Homo sapiens: one gene and its partners. The protein of the gene in region 2 purifies or fractionates together with the protein of the main gene of each other region. This does not show direct contact. Each region holds a gene or a part of one and is shown on either strand. Other genes may lie near its edges.

Region 1 (3,566 bases), on a different chromosome or scaffold from region 2:
AATTCATGGAGTGAGAACAAGAGCTGACTTCCTAGCTGGCTCTGGAGGTCTCTTCCCTGTCTCCAGGACAGATGGGTCAGATTCTAGCCTCTTATAGTACAGAGGCCACAGTGGAACTGTGGGTATAATTCCAACTGTCTACCTCCTGCACAGGCACTATGAGTATGCCCATTTTACAGATGGGGAACCTGAGCTGCAGAAGCCTGTGAGATGCAAAGCCAGGATTTGGCCCAGCTGGTCTGACTGCAAGCCTGGGGCCTCTCTTTTGCTCTGCTGACACCCCTGGTATGGTCCCGGGGTTTCCCAGCCCCGAGGTGGGTCTTGGCCAGCCTCACCTGCCCTCCTTGTTGCTGGGTTACCCATAGAACCTTCTGTCCTAGTTTGCTGTGGAGGGTGAAGGATAGTGTGGAGCTTACAGAGTGAACTCTCATCTCCTACCACTCCGTGAGGTGGGAAAAGAAAATGAGGTTGAATGTTCCCAACTTCTCCAGGCAGGAATGGGGCCAGAGCTAGAATGCAAACTGGGCTGGCCCCAGAGATGTCCACCTGATACAGCTTCTGAGCAGCGGCCTGGGCTGACCAGTGGAGAGCCCCTCCTAGGGAACAGCTGGGATCCTGGACAAGGACCAGGCCTGCCCCAGCAGGAGGCCCTGTCACAGGGAGATAACAGGCCCCTGCCCCTGCCCATGACCACCGGGGGCGGTCACCCACGGCCACTGACCTCTGTGGCCTTCAAAGCTTCGTAAACAATTAACTCCAGAGTTTCAATCTCTCCAGTTTGTATCTTTCCAGACAATTAGTGATTTGCTCTGATGGCCCTCCTGTTGGGCCTTTTAACGTTCTCTGTGTAAATAATCCTAGGCAGCTGTGCTGGTCACGTGTGGCCTTCAAAGGCAGGCCAGGTGCAGGCTGTCGGGAGCTGCCTCTCACTGAAGCCCTGGCCCCGCGGTCAGTCTCCCCATGGCACGCGGACAGCTGCTGACGGCTCGCTCTCCAGATGAGGAACTGGGCCTGCACTAGGCTGCAGAATGCTAAGGGGTTATGAGTGGCCATGGCTCCCATAAGACATGGACACAGTCCGTGGCTGAGGGATCATGCGGTCACCACGGTCACAGTTAATAAGTCACTGGTTCCTCTACAGAACCAAATGGCAGACTGCCACCCCCCTTTTAGAGATGGGAAGACTGAGGCTCAGACAGGTATCTATCTGGGCCCATGAGACCCACCGGCTCCAGCCACAAGGTAGGAGGGGCTGCCCAGGGCACTCCTCTCTTCCTTGGACTCCCAGCAGAGCTTTCCAGAAGCCCACCCAACACACAGCCCAGGGCCTGAGCAGGCAGCTGAATCCCTATGGATTCCCTGCCCTCCACCGCAGCCTCAGCGCCTGGTCTGCACAGAGAGGACCCAAGACCTCCCGAGGTGGCCCCGTGGAACTTGCGGCGTGTCACCCCCACAGGCATCCCCCCGCAGTGAGCTGGGCCCCAGCCCCAGCCCCAGACCACACGCTGTGTGAGTCAAGGAATCAAGGACCAACAGTGGGGTAGGTGTGAGGCCCCAAAGGTCCTGAGCCCTAGAGGGAGTTCAGGGCAGAGGCACCGCGGCAGCAGAAGGCCACAAGCTGGTGGGGACAGGTGCAAATCCTTAGCGCAGCTCCCAGCACCCACAGAGCTGGCTCAGGAGCAACTGGTGGCATGGAGGGGGAGAGCTGTCCTGGATGGTTTTTGCTCCATGGTCAAGGAAAACAGCCCCATCTTCACCACGGCTGGGGTAGGATGTGTGTGGTCTCTGGTGGCTGGACATCCTCCCTCTGCCCACCTGTGGATCCTAAATGTCCTCTAACAGCCTCCACCCTGGGTTGGGTGGTCTGGGATCAGCACTTGAACACTCCTGTGTGGGCGTGTACCTGCCATGTTTTTCCAAAACAACATCCCTTGCAAGCTGGGGACTTGGGACAATGCCCTATCAGGAAAGGGGCACTTTCAGGAAAGGAACAAAGAGATTAGGCCACAAGTCCCACAGTCAGAAAGCAACTGGCCTGCTTGCAGGGGCCCCTCTCCACTCATGCCGTCCCATCTCCACTGCCCCCCCTTGCTGTGAGTGGCGGGGTCTCGCATGATGTGTCTGAAACCCAACTGTGCTTTCTGAGTGCTGCTTCCACTCCACACCCCGCTCATCCTGCAAAACCCTGTGTGTGGGAGGCTTTTCCACTCCCTCAGGGCACTGCAGCCCACACCTCTGGCTACCACCAGCTCACTGTCATTTGGCTGGAGCAACCTCATCCCCTAGGTCTAGGACTATTTTTTTCAGCATAACATACCCCACCCAAACCCAAAACAGACAGCAAATCTTCACAGAGCCAACTGAGTTTCTGAGAAGGCAAGAACAGTCTTAAGAGATGAAAACCTTCTTGCAAACAAAATGTCACCTCACCTATAAATACTGCTGTGGAGTGGGCCTCAAGGAGAGGAGAGCAGGTGCCAGTGAGTGTCCAGGTGGCTGCAGAGAAGTGCCCGAAAAGTGCTGGCAGGGGATGGCCCGAGTCTGCCTCCCGCCTGAATCATGCAGCCCTTCCAGTGGGGCTCCCATCTGACTGGGCCCCACATGCTACCACTCAGTAACTGCTCCCCAGAGCTCGGCTTCTCATGCTCTTCCCGCCTCAAACCCAAAGACCCACCACACGCTACCACCAAGTGGGGATTGAGCCCAGTCCTGCTGCCTCCGTGATGCTTGAGGTCTGACCTAGAAACACCCCACAGTCTTTCATAGAGGGGGTATGCAGCCCCACAAAATGCCACATGGGATGGTGATGGCACCCAGAGAGGGAAGCTGAGGGGTTGGGGAGACTCCTGGGTTTCCCATCTCCTCACCCTCCAGCATTCACTGGGGCAGAGCAAGGACACTGGAGCAGAGGGATGGCCTAGACCCACCTGCACCCACACAGGCTCACAGCACTGCCTCCTGCAGGGCTGATCCTCCCTGGGCCGGTGGTGGCATCGGTGGTGCAGGACCAGAGGAGTACCTGAAAACAGCCCAATCTTATGGGGGAGGTGGCAGAAGGGGTGGCCACACTGCGCCAGGAGCCAAGCACCGCCATGGGCAGTCTCTGCTGCCAGGGGCCGACTCTCAGGCAGCCTTGCCAGCACTACCTTTGCAGAGCCCAGAGCCCAGGCATGATGCCTGTCCTTCTGCTCTGAGTGAAGGCTGCCAGGTGTCTTCCAGTAAACGCAACGACACAGGCCTACATGTGAAACTGCCCATGTCTGCCCAGGTCTCAGAAGCCCTAGTGTTCTACATCTGGCTGGTCTGGGCCAGCGGCAATCGCCCCCACCTGCAGACAGCCTTCCATGCGCATGCAGGGGTTGCTGGGAGCAGAGGGCTGGGTGCGGCATACAGCCTTCAGGACAGACAGACAGATGTCCACATGCTAGCTCCTGGCCCTCCAGGCTGAGGGACTGACACATTCTCCACCTTCTCTGGGGCCTGACTTCCTTGTGTGGAAAATGGGGCTGCTCTTCATATACTTGTCTTGGGGGAGTGTTGGGTCCAAACAAGATGACCCATTCCAA
Region 2 (4,078 bases):
CACAAGTTGTCACGATCATGAACCTAACCACACTCCCCCCTGCGGCCAATTTCCTATTTTGCTGTTCAAAAGAGGGAAATGCACATATCAAAAGGAAAACAGCTTGGTGCTGGCCAGCTGCAGAAGGGTGGAGGTCTTTGGTGCTCAGAAGAGAGAGCAGCTCCTGCGGCAGTCCTGCGTGTGTCGCTGTCCAGACCTCGGTGCTGAATACTAGGCACTGGTATCTCCCGCCAGGTTCAATCCCTCAGGGTTCGAATAGGCTCCACCATGGGAGACTGAACTCACTTCCCTAGGGTGAGGGGTGGAGAATTCATTTAGATGTTTCCTTGCTCTCCTCCCACAGGAAACCATTTTTCCACAAAGAGGCATTGTGCATTTTATGGGAAAGTAATGGCACAGCTCCAGCTCAGCACCAAAGTGAAGAGCTCTACTGAGGCACAATGGAAAGTCGAGGTAAATAAAAACTGCTCTTTCCCTCCCTGAATCAACACAACAGCTTTTGGGATCCTAGATCCCCTTGTTGACGAATTCTTAAAAATATGTTTTTTTAAAATCACATGATTAATCATTTTACTGATAAACACCCTAAAAGGTGGTGGTGGCGCTGGCTTTGCAATATCGGAGTATAACTACTGATATTGTTTTACTGAGGTTGAGAAACAAAGGGGAGGAGGGAAGTAAACTTGTAAACTAAGGTGGCTTGAATGGTTAAAAATTCATTTTTAATAGTATTGCTTTAACATAGACATGCTAATTTTCTCAGACAATTTAGAACAGAATTGGGACAGTAGTAGCTTCCCTTCTTCTCCTTACTCTCCTAGCCTCTCTCTTTGAAAGACCTAAGAGCCTTGTTCTTCATAGCAGGTGCTGATGCCCAAAGGGCCATTATAAGAATCCTATAGCCTCCCCCCCTCCCCGCCACACACATGAGATAATAAAGTAAATACAGAGAAAATGGATGGAAGGGAGGGAAAGCACTCCCAGCCTTTGATTCTTGGTAGTTATGTTCAAGTGGGGCACTTCTCTTTGAAAAGTGAAAATGTTTCTCACGGTACAGAATTTATGGGCAGACAAGGAGCAGACTTAACTGATCCCAGCAAACAGTTCCTTCCTTTTCCTAATCCCTGGCTGCTTATTTTAGCCGCTTCTCCGCCCCGCCGGGAATACCATTCGGATCTTAGTCCAGGTAGATCTGACGTCAAGAGATGGCTTTCGTCGATTTGACGTGTAAACACTCATTTCCATTCTGGCTGGGAAGGGCTGGGGCTCCACTCAGCCTGGAGACCGAAGCGCTTCACTGAGCGCTCGCCGCCGCCCAGCCTCTCCTCTCGCGCCTCCTAGCTCTTCGCAGAGCAACCAGGAGCCAGGAGTGGTCTAGAGCCCGAGGGTGGGAAGGGGGAGTCTGTCTGGCTTTTCTCCTATCTTGCTTCTTTTTCCTCTTCCCTTCCCACTCTTGTTCAAGCGAGTGTGTGAGCTATGGAGCGAAGAGCCTGGAGTCTGCAGTGCACTGCTTTCGTCCTCTTTTGCGCTTGGTGTGCACTGAACAGTGCAAAAGCGAAAAGGCAATTTGTCAATGAATGGGCAGCGGAGATCCCCGGGGGCCCGGAAGCAGCCTCGGCCATCGCCGAGGAGCTGGGCTATGACCTTTTGGGTCAGGTAAGAGTTTCCACTTTCAAGAAACTTTCTGGGGCCCCAGGGGACTGGCGGGACTGGAGCGCGGTCTTCCAAGTGGGAGCCCCAGGTTGCACTCTCCAGAGCCCAGAGTAGCAAAGAGCAAGGAGCTGCTCCAGCCCTCGCCCCTGTCGCGCTTGGAGAGAGAGAAAGCTTGCATTATTTACTGTTTAGGCTGGGCGCAGCCAAGCAGAAGGAAGCCGCTGCAGCTGGGTAGGGCTTATGCTTACTGTTGGCCGCTCTAGAATTGAAATCCGTTCCCGCGCGGTTTGGAAGAAAAATCCCTCCACGCTTGTTCAGGGAACTTGAGATACACTCAAGCTCTTACCAACCAAGCGCCCCCGGGAGAAGCAGTGCGCTCCATCCCCCGGGACTGAGGCGGTCTGCGTCAGGAGCCGGCTGTTGCCTTCTTTTCAATATGGCAGCATCAGATCCAAGTCCTGATGCAAGGGGCTAAGCAGGCTTGGGGCTGTCCGCCCTGGCAGCCTGTAAGGGCACGCCCAGGGCATTGGAAGAGTGCCAGCTGCTGGGACTCGCGACCAGGAGGTTGGGAGGCCGCGGAGTAGCCTGGGAAGCTGGGGGGAGAAATGGTGGGTGAAAGACACGGGACCATCTATCCCCGCGACTCTCTAGGGAGCTCCGGCTTTTCACTGGGAACTTATAAAGTCCAAGCTTCATAACTTTGCCCGGCCAGTCCCACTGCAGGGTCGAGATGCCGAACTGACTATGGGGAAGGGATCTATTTCTTTCTTGTTCTTCAGCCAAGTACGTAATCGTTTTCCCGGGAATTTCAGCTTATTGTTGCCTGTCCAAGTGAAGGCTTGGTCGATAGGTAGCTGGTTGGAGGTGGGTGGGCGTCAAGACATTAAGTGGGAGACTGCTTATAGCTGAGCGATTCCGAGGGGACCCTAGGGAGTGTGACTTCTAGTCTAGAGCTTTCCTTTCCTTGGCTCGGAATCAAGCCCTCGCCCCCTGCTTGGGAAGTTGGTCTGCATTGAAGCGTGGGAGGAGGCAGTTGTAAAACATTTTGGCGCGTTTTTTCTGGAGGTGGTGGTTGAGACGCCGCTGGAGTCACGGATGAGTAATCGGCGGGGGCGTTGGCGATTCTGTAGACCGAACCCTCTGGGGAATTCGCCTGCTCTTGCTAGAGGCTTCATTCTCAACTTTATAAACCAAATTGTCTTTGAAATGCCCGAAAGGAAAATCAATGCAGATTGGCTTCCTGGTGTCCCAGCAGCAGATGAGTCTTTTGCTTTTGGCCAGCCCTTGCCCTCGTGCCAGGCTCCGTGTTAGGGGCTGAGGAATAAGAGGAGGGAAAGAAACGCTCTCAAGTAATCAAGAATCTAGAGGAGACTAGCTTAGAGATAAATGATTGCAACTGATTGTAATTTGTGTAATCATAGAAGTTGTACTTGAAGTCTCAATATTCATTGGTTGAAGGAATGAAAGTAGTAGGGAATTCGGGAGGGGTGAATGAAAACTGCCCAAAGGAGAAAACATTTGCTCCGGGAACAGAAGTCAAAGGTTGCCAGGAGCACATAATGAGATCGGAGAAGACAGTCTAGGCATAGAAAACAGCTTGTGGGAAAACAGTGAGACATAATACAGTTTAGTAGTAAGTCTGGGAATTGCACGCAATTATTAGGAATTTTTGAGACCCAAAGAGGGTATGAGTAGCAGAGGAAATTGTGCTGGTGGGTACTGTGGACATCATACAAATCATGTATGACCTATGGGGGTGGACACTGGGGATTTAATTGTGTATTCCTTGAGCAGCTACTGAAAGGCTAAATAGCACTGGTAACCGTGTAGGAGGAGACTGGGGAAGACAGCAAAAACTAAATCTCTCTTCTTTTTCCCACCTGTTAGCTCTAGGCATGCATCTAAACCTAGACCATTCAATGTGAAAACTGCTTTTCAAAATAAATAAACATAAATCTTAATAGTAAAAAACAATACATCATCATTCTTGGGAGGATCTTTGAGTAAGGGATAGCATAGTCACAAAAGCATTAACAAATAGTGGGGGAAAACCATCTATATTTATATATGATTTACAATACTATCTTTCCTCTAACCATTTTTAGTTAAGATGGCATTACTAACAAAAGTTTTAAAACAAACTTAACAAAATTATTTTATTAGAATAATAATTCTTTGTAGAAGGCTGATAGCACGTTCCTGGTTCTGCTTATTTCTCTTTTTGTTTAATATTACTAAAATTACACTAATTTAGCATTACTATATTGGGTACCTTATTGCCTCAGGATAAAGCTTGGATTAAGGTAGTGACAAGAAGAAAAACCAGTTGACAGCAGAGAAAACAGAGCTAAGCACTGGTGATCTTTTTCTGCGGCTGCTGATTTCTCTCCCCAGTTCCATCCACAGCTTATAGGAAGATTCACTG
Region 3 (3,566 bases), on a different chromosome or scaffold from region 2:
AGACTTGTGAACCAAATGGGGCCGCAGAGAAGGAAGTCTGGTGTCAGTGCACTAAAGGCCACAAGATGGGGGTGTTGCTCAGTGAGAGCGGAAACAGCCAGGCTATTAAACGTGAGCAGCAGAAGATCCAGATAGTTAGTGCTGATGCTGGAGAACTCCCTGTAGGTGGGGCAGGTGGTGTCGGCTTTTCCACCACTCATCACAGAGCTTGATCTTTTTTTTGCATGGCTGTGGGGAGTGAGGGGGAGGATGTCTTTACAGATGTCACTGGGGCCTCATTACTTCACCCCAACTGTTTTCCTCATTCTTACTTTCCCATTTCTTTCTCCATTCTTCCCTGCTCTCTCCCCCAACTACCCATATTACAAAACTAAGTATAGTTTTTTATTATTCTTAATTCTTTATTTTTTTAAAGTATGAATAAGCATTTTAGTCTGTTTCTTCTCTCTTCCTCTTTCTTGTGCATACACCTGTGTACACACATGCACACACACATATACCCCACCGTTGATTTTTATGAGGGTGAATGGTCTCAACAGCAGAAAGGCTTACTACACTTGTTTTTGCAAGTATTTGCAGATCTTTGTAGTTCCTAATATGTTATCTCACACTGTAGCCTACAGATAAGAATTGGGGGGGAAAAGTATTAATTTATGTTATTGATGAATTCTATGAGATTCCCTTACTCTAGATTCACTCATCCATTCAATACCTGTGCAAGGCTCTGGAGGATGCAATCATGAACAGCATGGACTTGAGTCCTTTTCCTCAGAGAGCTGTGGAAAAACAGCGTAGAGGGAGACACAGATGCCGGCAAGTTCTGTGAGAGGGCTAGCACACGAATTGAGAGTCTATGTGTACTTACAAATATATAATCAAAATGAATCATGGAAAATGAAACTGAGAAATAAGTGCACATTTGTATTTTCAGGTTCCAGAAGCCAATATCTTGGGACAAATTGGACATGGCTATAAGTATGCCATAGGGAGTCTCAATGAAGGTAGAATAGGAATTGCTGCACAGGTAAGTCAGATTTAAACTCTTCCATGATGTGAGTCAATTAAACTGTGAAAAGAAAAAAATGCAATGAGACCAATGAATATTTGGAAGCTTATGGACACAAGATGGCACCGTTCCCTTACATGAGGGATAGAATGGCTTATTATTTCTTTCAAATTCCCTTTTGGTCAATTATGTAAGTGTCCATAGAACCAAACAATGGCTTGGTGGTAACAGTGTTTCTGCTTTGAGAACATTAAAGTATTATCTAATACCTGAACCGATAGCTTTTCAAATGTATTGTAAATTAAATATGGCACTTTAAAAAAAATCAACTTTTCAAAGCATGAAATTCATTCTGGAAGGAATTTTTTACATTAAGAATAAATAATATTCCTTCCACTGTGTAGTAAAGATATCTATAGTTAATAAAAGATTTGTTGCTTACTGTTTTGCATGTGAAAACTGGGCAAGTTTTTTGGCGGCACATGAAATAAAATAGCCACAGTTAAGTAGATACATAAAATGAGAACTATTCAAAATTTTTTTTTACCAAATTTGGCTTTTATAATGCATATTGCATTTTTCTATTAAGTAATATCAGTTATTTTCCAGATTAACAAAATGAATAAGGTCTTTGGCTTTACTTTAGTGTCAGTTTTGTAGAGTGTATATATATATATATATATATATATATATATATATATATATTTTTTTTTTTTTTTTTTTTTTTTTGAGATGGAGTCTTGCTCTGTTGCCCAGGCCGGAGTGCAGTGGTGCGATCTCGGCTCACTGCAAGCTCCGCCTCCTGGGTTCATGCCATTCTCCTGCCTCAGCCTCCCGAGTAGCTGGGACTACAGGCGCCCGCCACCACGCCCAGCCAATTTTTTTTGTATTTTTAGTAGAGATGAGGTTTCACCATGTTAGCCAGGATGGTCTCAATCTCCTGACCTCGTGATCCACCCGCCTCGGCCTCCCAAAGTGCTGGGATTACAGGCGTGAGCCACCGCGCCCGGCGTTTGTAGAGTATATTTTTAATCAGTGATTATACAAAACTCAAGAACTTAGAGCTTTTCAGTTTTGAAGATGTTACATATAAGCTATTGGAATAAATATTAGATTATTACTCTAGATTTTTTTCTGCTGCTGTTACTTTGCTAACTATTTTTAGACCAAAACTTAGTCTAGTTTTCCTACAATGCTTGACAGTGTGTCACTAAAGAATATTGTTTTATCAGTTCTCTTAAAAGTTTTTCTGTGATTCAACTTAGACATGACATTAGAAACTGCAATACTAGAGCTCATTTTTTTCAGACATATAAATAATATAGATGTTCTGGCAATAAAATACACAGCCTGGGCTTCAGTTTAATTACTCCAAGTTATATAATAACCTAATTAAAAGTTAAGATCAGGTAGTTACTATCTCAGTGGATACCTTTGAGAGGAAGAGGCACACGGAGTATAACAGTGAACTGAAGGCATCTGTCCTCGAAACCTTGCAGGCAGAGAGAATTCAGTTTTTCAGTGTTTGTAGTAGAAACATTTTACTGAGGTAGAAAAGCCCATTTTGATGGATAACTGATTATTTCAGTCTTCGTGTCAATATAGGGTATTATTTATGTACAAATTTTAGCTGTAAGGGTATAGTGACATCATCTTATCTCACAGCCAAGAGTGCAGTGAGTCTGCTGCCTCATTTGAATTTGGGGTTTGTGGTTTTCTTGTGCCTTTAATTTTTAACATATTATTCTGTTCTCTAGAGAGTTCAGAATAAAAGACTAAAAGAAAATGTGAATGAATACTAATGAAATAAATTGATAAGTCTGCTGGGCATTTCCCCCAAAAGCTTTAGCTATTGATTTTCTAAAACCATAATTTGACATAATTACTGATTTAGTGGCTACCTAATGTTGAAATTTAGAAACGATTTCTAAGCTTGAATCATATAATAGATATGAAAGTTGGTTAGCAGTGAGACAGTTCAGCTAAAATTGTCACCACGTCCTGTGTAAATTAATGTTTTTACTAGATGCTTTCTATCCATTGTTCTCAACCCTAGCTGTGTATTAAGTCACTAAGGAGTTTTACAGAGTTGAGGTTTAGGTCACACTCCTTCACCTACTCTACTCCCAAGATTTGGATTCAGTCATTAGGCCTGGGTATCAGTATTGTTTTAAATCAGATTCCCCAAATGATTCTATGGTACAGCTCGGATTCAGAACCACTGCTCTCTTATGTTCTAATGCCCTCCCATTGAAGCTCTCATTAATCCTAATCATATACAAAATAGACGGAAAGGTAGAAAGTTAAGAAGTGACCTTCCATATTTTACTTCTAGAAGAACTGGAGGGCCTTCCTCTATAGCCTTCAAGGCCAGTTCTGAGCAAAACTTCTATGGCTCATTTTATACCTGGAGAATCAAAGCTTAAGGAAGATTCCTAAAGAGTAATCTTAACCTAAAAAGGTTGTGTGAACACAGCCTTGCTGGGAGATTTACCTCTGCTAGAATTAAATGTGCTCATATTCACATGAAATCACTCAAAATTTTCTCCCAATTATTGGA
Region 4 (3,566 bases), on a different chromosome or scaffold from region 2:
AGATCTGTGGTTAAGGAACTTAATACCAATTTTGAAAAAAGCAGTTTTGAAATCATTTCAATACTTGAAATTATAATCTCTGCTATGCCTGTTCCCAAACGCAGAGCTCTTAATGATGTGCGTGTATGAGCATCGCAGTCCTCGGAAGGAGACAGACCCACCTTTGACGCTGGAAGCCACAGAAGACATGTTGATAATATTGCCAGATTTCTGAGCAAGCATCTGCCAAAACAAAACAAATACAAAAAAAAAAAAATCCACTTTGTGGGCTAAAATACTACCTTTTAAAAAGATTTGCATTTTCTTAGGGTTTGCAGAATGAATTTAATTACTGTATTAGCTAGTCACATTAAGCACTATTAAGCAGTCTTAACAGTGAACCCAAAACACCTCATCAACTATTGCTGGGAAATGATGGCAATGTGACTGCACTCACTGGCATTTCCCAGGGGGATTACCACCTTCCCATGGTACAAGAATGTCAGCAAGACTACGAGTGAATGCTGACTTAAATGAAATGTGAATAAATGTTGTTATTGTGTGTTACTGATGTTGGGAAACTTACTCCATTCAACACATAATTTTTGAATACCTACTGAGGCCAGGTATTGTGCTAGGTCCAGGAGATTACTGCCTACAGGAGGCAACCAGTCTGGTTAGAGTGGCTCACATAATCCACATCCAGCCACAGCAGAGACCTCCACAGAGATCTAACAGCAGGGTGAGGGCAGAAAGGGAGCAATTCAGGCTGGGCGACACTCAGAGGGGACCTCCTGAGAAGGAAGGATATGGGCTGAATTTTGAACACTAGAGTATTAGTCAGAAAAATAAAAGAAAAGGATGTTTTGAGGAGTGGGTACACAGGTATAAAGGTTCCATCGGGAACTGGGAGGAGGGGCTGGGTCTGGCTGGAATGCAGGGTGTGGAAGCAATGAGGCTGCAGAGGTCAACAAGGGCTGAATTTAGAACCTGGGTTTTACCCTGAAGGTGATGCAGTGACACTGAAGGGTTTAAAGCAGAGAAGTGGCATGTTCAGACTTGGGGATTGCAAGGATTACTGTGGTGCCCAGAGACTAGTGGAAGCTGATGCAGGCTTCAGGAAAGAGTGATAAAGGTGGAGCTGCAGAAATGTCTATGGGTAGCTGAGGAGGAGAGGGCTGAGGCAGGATGGGCAGGACCTTGTAGATGGTTGCTGCAGGGATGGTGGGCCTCACCAATTTAGGGCAGTGTTTCCTAAGAACACCTTCTTCAGAATTCCCCCACTAAAGTGTGAATTTATTAAGATGAGGGTCTTTGGCTGTTTTGTCCTCCTAGACAGTGTACACAGTAGGCAGTCAATAAATGTTGATGAATCAGAATCTCCTGAGGTGCTAGTTTAAAACACAGATTGCTGGGCCCTGTCCTATAGCTAAATAAATATATAATAAAGAAAACTGCTATGAATTTAAAAATGTTTTCAAACTTTACTAATTATAACATGTACATAGAAGTCTCAATAGGCAGTGTAAAGGGCCAGAGAAAAAAAATGACTTCTGTTGGGACGAGTTTCTTTAGCAGCTTTTAGAAAAAGAGGTGTAGGAAAGGAAAAAGTAAATAATTGAATGGATCCAGGATTGGTGTGGCCAAGATGATTGATTTCTTAGGATATTCTTCTGACTTTGTTCTGAGATTTAGCTACTAATTGCCCCTAAAAACAGAATCTAAACTAACCCCAAGGCACTATGCTGAATGGAGTAAGTGGATACAAGGAGAGGCTGACTGTAACCCAACCAAGCTAAGGAAGACAGCAGGGGAAAAAATAATGTTTAACTTAATTGTGTGTTTTATATAATAAAGAGGATCATAATGAAATGGGGTTCTCATAAAAAGTGTCAAGAATGTTGGTCAAGTGTAATGGTGTTGAAAAGTAAGCCTTAAAATTGTTCTTTCTTATCCAATTTAGCAAATAGCATTCCCCATTTAAAATACATATAGAATACATATACCCCAATTTAATACATAAAGATGGGTTATTATGTAGGTTCAATCTCTAGTCCTCTCTAGAAATGCAATATTATCTCAGGCAAAACCTTAGAATAAAGCCACCTAAGAGACATTACATTAGTGCTGCCCCCTAACACTTGCACTATCCATTCAACCAAGTTCAACCGAGGTCCCTCTGCTGCTTCTAGAGCCCCTAGTCAGTACCTGTTCCCATGCTGCCTTCCCAGTCCAGGTCAGGAGCTGTCGTCATGGTGTCAGGCTCTCCCTGGCTCCCCATGCAATAGCCTTCTCTGGCAGGCATGACTATAAAGTCAAGTGCCTGGTACATAGTACTGCTATCTAGGATTGACCTCCCAGAAGCTTAGGTAGGGGCTAGAAATACCCCTTAAGAGTCCCTGGAGCTGTATCTAGTTAGTCTTACTCTGACCCAGCCCTTCTGTCTCCATTGGCCAGAGCTCAGCCCCTAACCCTGGTGGAACCTGGCCACTTGGGTCTCCAGTGGTTCCTGCTGGACTAACAACCTTGATTCATTTATTTATTTGACAAATGTTTGTGGAGCACCTCTATACGCTGAAGACTCTTCTAAGACACAGCAAGGTGGGGGAAAAAAGCAAGCAAACAAACCAACCCAAATAACAAAGATATCCCCAAATCTTTGCCCTAATGGATCTTCTCTTCTGGTGGAGCCTGGATTCTGCATTGACCTCTTCTTAAAGTATTTTCAACTTGTTCTCTGCCTTTTGACTGATCTTCCAGTCTTGGAATGCTTTCCTGTGTATCTATCCATGAATAAAAATTTCCTATGAGTGTTCCTATGTTCTGACCAGCTGACCTTCCAGAGCTGCCTAGACTCCAAATCCTAGCTTCCCCTGGAAAGTTCTAACATGGGATATGTGTGTCATAGTTAATGATACAGAGGATCATAGATAATTATGGCTGGAAGTGATTGTGTAACCTATCATCCTCATTTTTTAGCTAAAAGAAATATGTACTGAGAGGGTACAAGTGCCATCTCTATGGCACATGGCCAATTAGGGGCAGGGCGCAGACTGCACCTAAGGACTTCTGATGATAGAGTCCAAGACCAGGATTCGATTTTGTCAAGGTCACTTTAAACAAGAGGCACTAATACCATATTCCTGCCATTAACATCTCTTGGGATTTTTTTTTAAACAAATCTGTGTTTTTGGCCCACATGGATAATTGTTAAGATATTGTAAATCACAAGCAAACTCACTAGTTTGCAAGTTAATGTTTGTATATTTTAAAAATTAACACAAGTTTACATTTCAGCTCCACTGTACTCCACACCTACTTCCTTTACTAAAATTTGTAAAGCATTTTAGAGCCTGGTTTTGCAAATGAGTCTCATGCATGTGCAACAGTCTTACCCACGATGACCTAAGCTTTCCTCCTATACCACAGTCTCTGCTCTACCCCTGTAACCTATGCAAAGGATCTGTCTTCAAAAATACATTCGTGTTCCAAATACTATAGTTTCTCATAAACTCCAAATAGGCTAAAAAATCAACTTACATTAAAAAAAACAATTTGTTATAAAAATTTGCTAGTTCAACATTCTG

The links.
Region 1: the proteins of PCSK1 (region 2) and HS6ST1 purify together in Homo sapiens (affinity purification with mass spectrometry; one large-scale study listed by BioGRID and IntAct). This does not show direct contact.
Region 3: the proteins of PCSK1 (region 2) and ACADSB purify together in Homo sapiens (affinity purification with mass spectrometry; one large-scale study listed by BioGRID and IntAct). This does not show direct contact.
Region 4: the proteins of PCSK1 (region 2) and BDH2 purify together in Homo sapiens (affinity purification with mass spectrometry; one large-scale study listed by BioGRID and IntAct). This does not show direct contact.

Annotation. Positions count from the first base shown.
Region 1 is NC_000002.12:128,308,842-128,312,407, forward strand, and holds part of HS6ST1 (heparan-sulfate 6-O-sulfotransferase 1), read right to left. Parts: intron 1-3,566. UniProt on the Homo sapiens protein: 6-O-sulfation enzyme which catalyzes the transfer of sulfate from 3'-phosphoadenosine 5'-phosphosulfate (PAPS) to position 6 of the N-sulfoglucosamine residue (GlcNS) of heparan sulfate.
Region 2 is NC_000005.10:96,430,441-96,434,518, reverse strand, and holds the start of PCSK1 (neuroendocrine convertase 1 isoform 1 preproprotein), read left to right. Parts: upstream 1-1,270; 5' UTR 1,271-1,476; coding exon 1,477-1,656; intron 1,657-2,358; exon of another isoform or gene 2,359-2,397; coding exon of another isoform or gene 2,398-2,436; intron 2,437-4,078.
Region 3 is NC_000010.11:123,043,462-123,047,027, forward strand, and holds part of ACADSB (short/branched chain specific acyl-CoA dehydrogenase, mitochondrial isoform 1 precursor), read left to right. Parts: intron 1-931; coding exon 932-1,024; intron 1,025-3,566. UniProt on the Homo sapiens protein: Short and branched chain specific acyl-CoA dehydrogenase that catalyzes the removal of one hydrogen from C-2 and C-3 of the fatty acyl-CoA thioester, resulting in the formation of trans-2-enoyl-CoA.
Region 4 is NC_000004.12:103,086,319-103,089,884, forward strand, and holds part of BDH2 (dehydrogenase/reductase SDR family member 6), read right to left. Parts: intron 223-3,566; coding exon 162-222; coding exon of another isoform or gene 58-161; exon of another isoform or gene 1-57. UniProt on the Homo sapiens protein: NAD(H)-dependent dehydrogenase/reductase with a preference for cyclic substrates. Catalyzes stereoselective conversion of 4-oxo-L-proline to cis-4-hydroxy-L-proline, likely a detoxification mechanism for ketoprolines.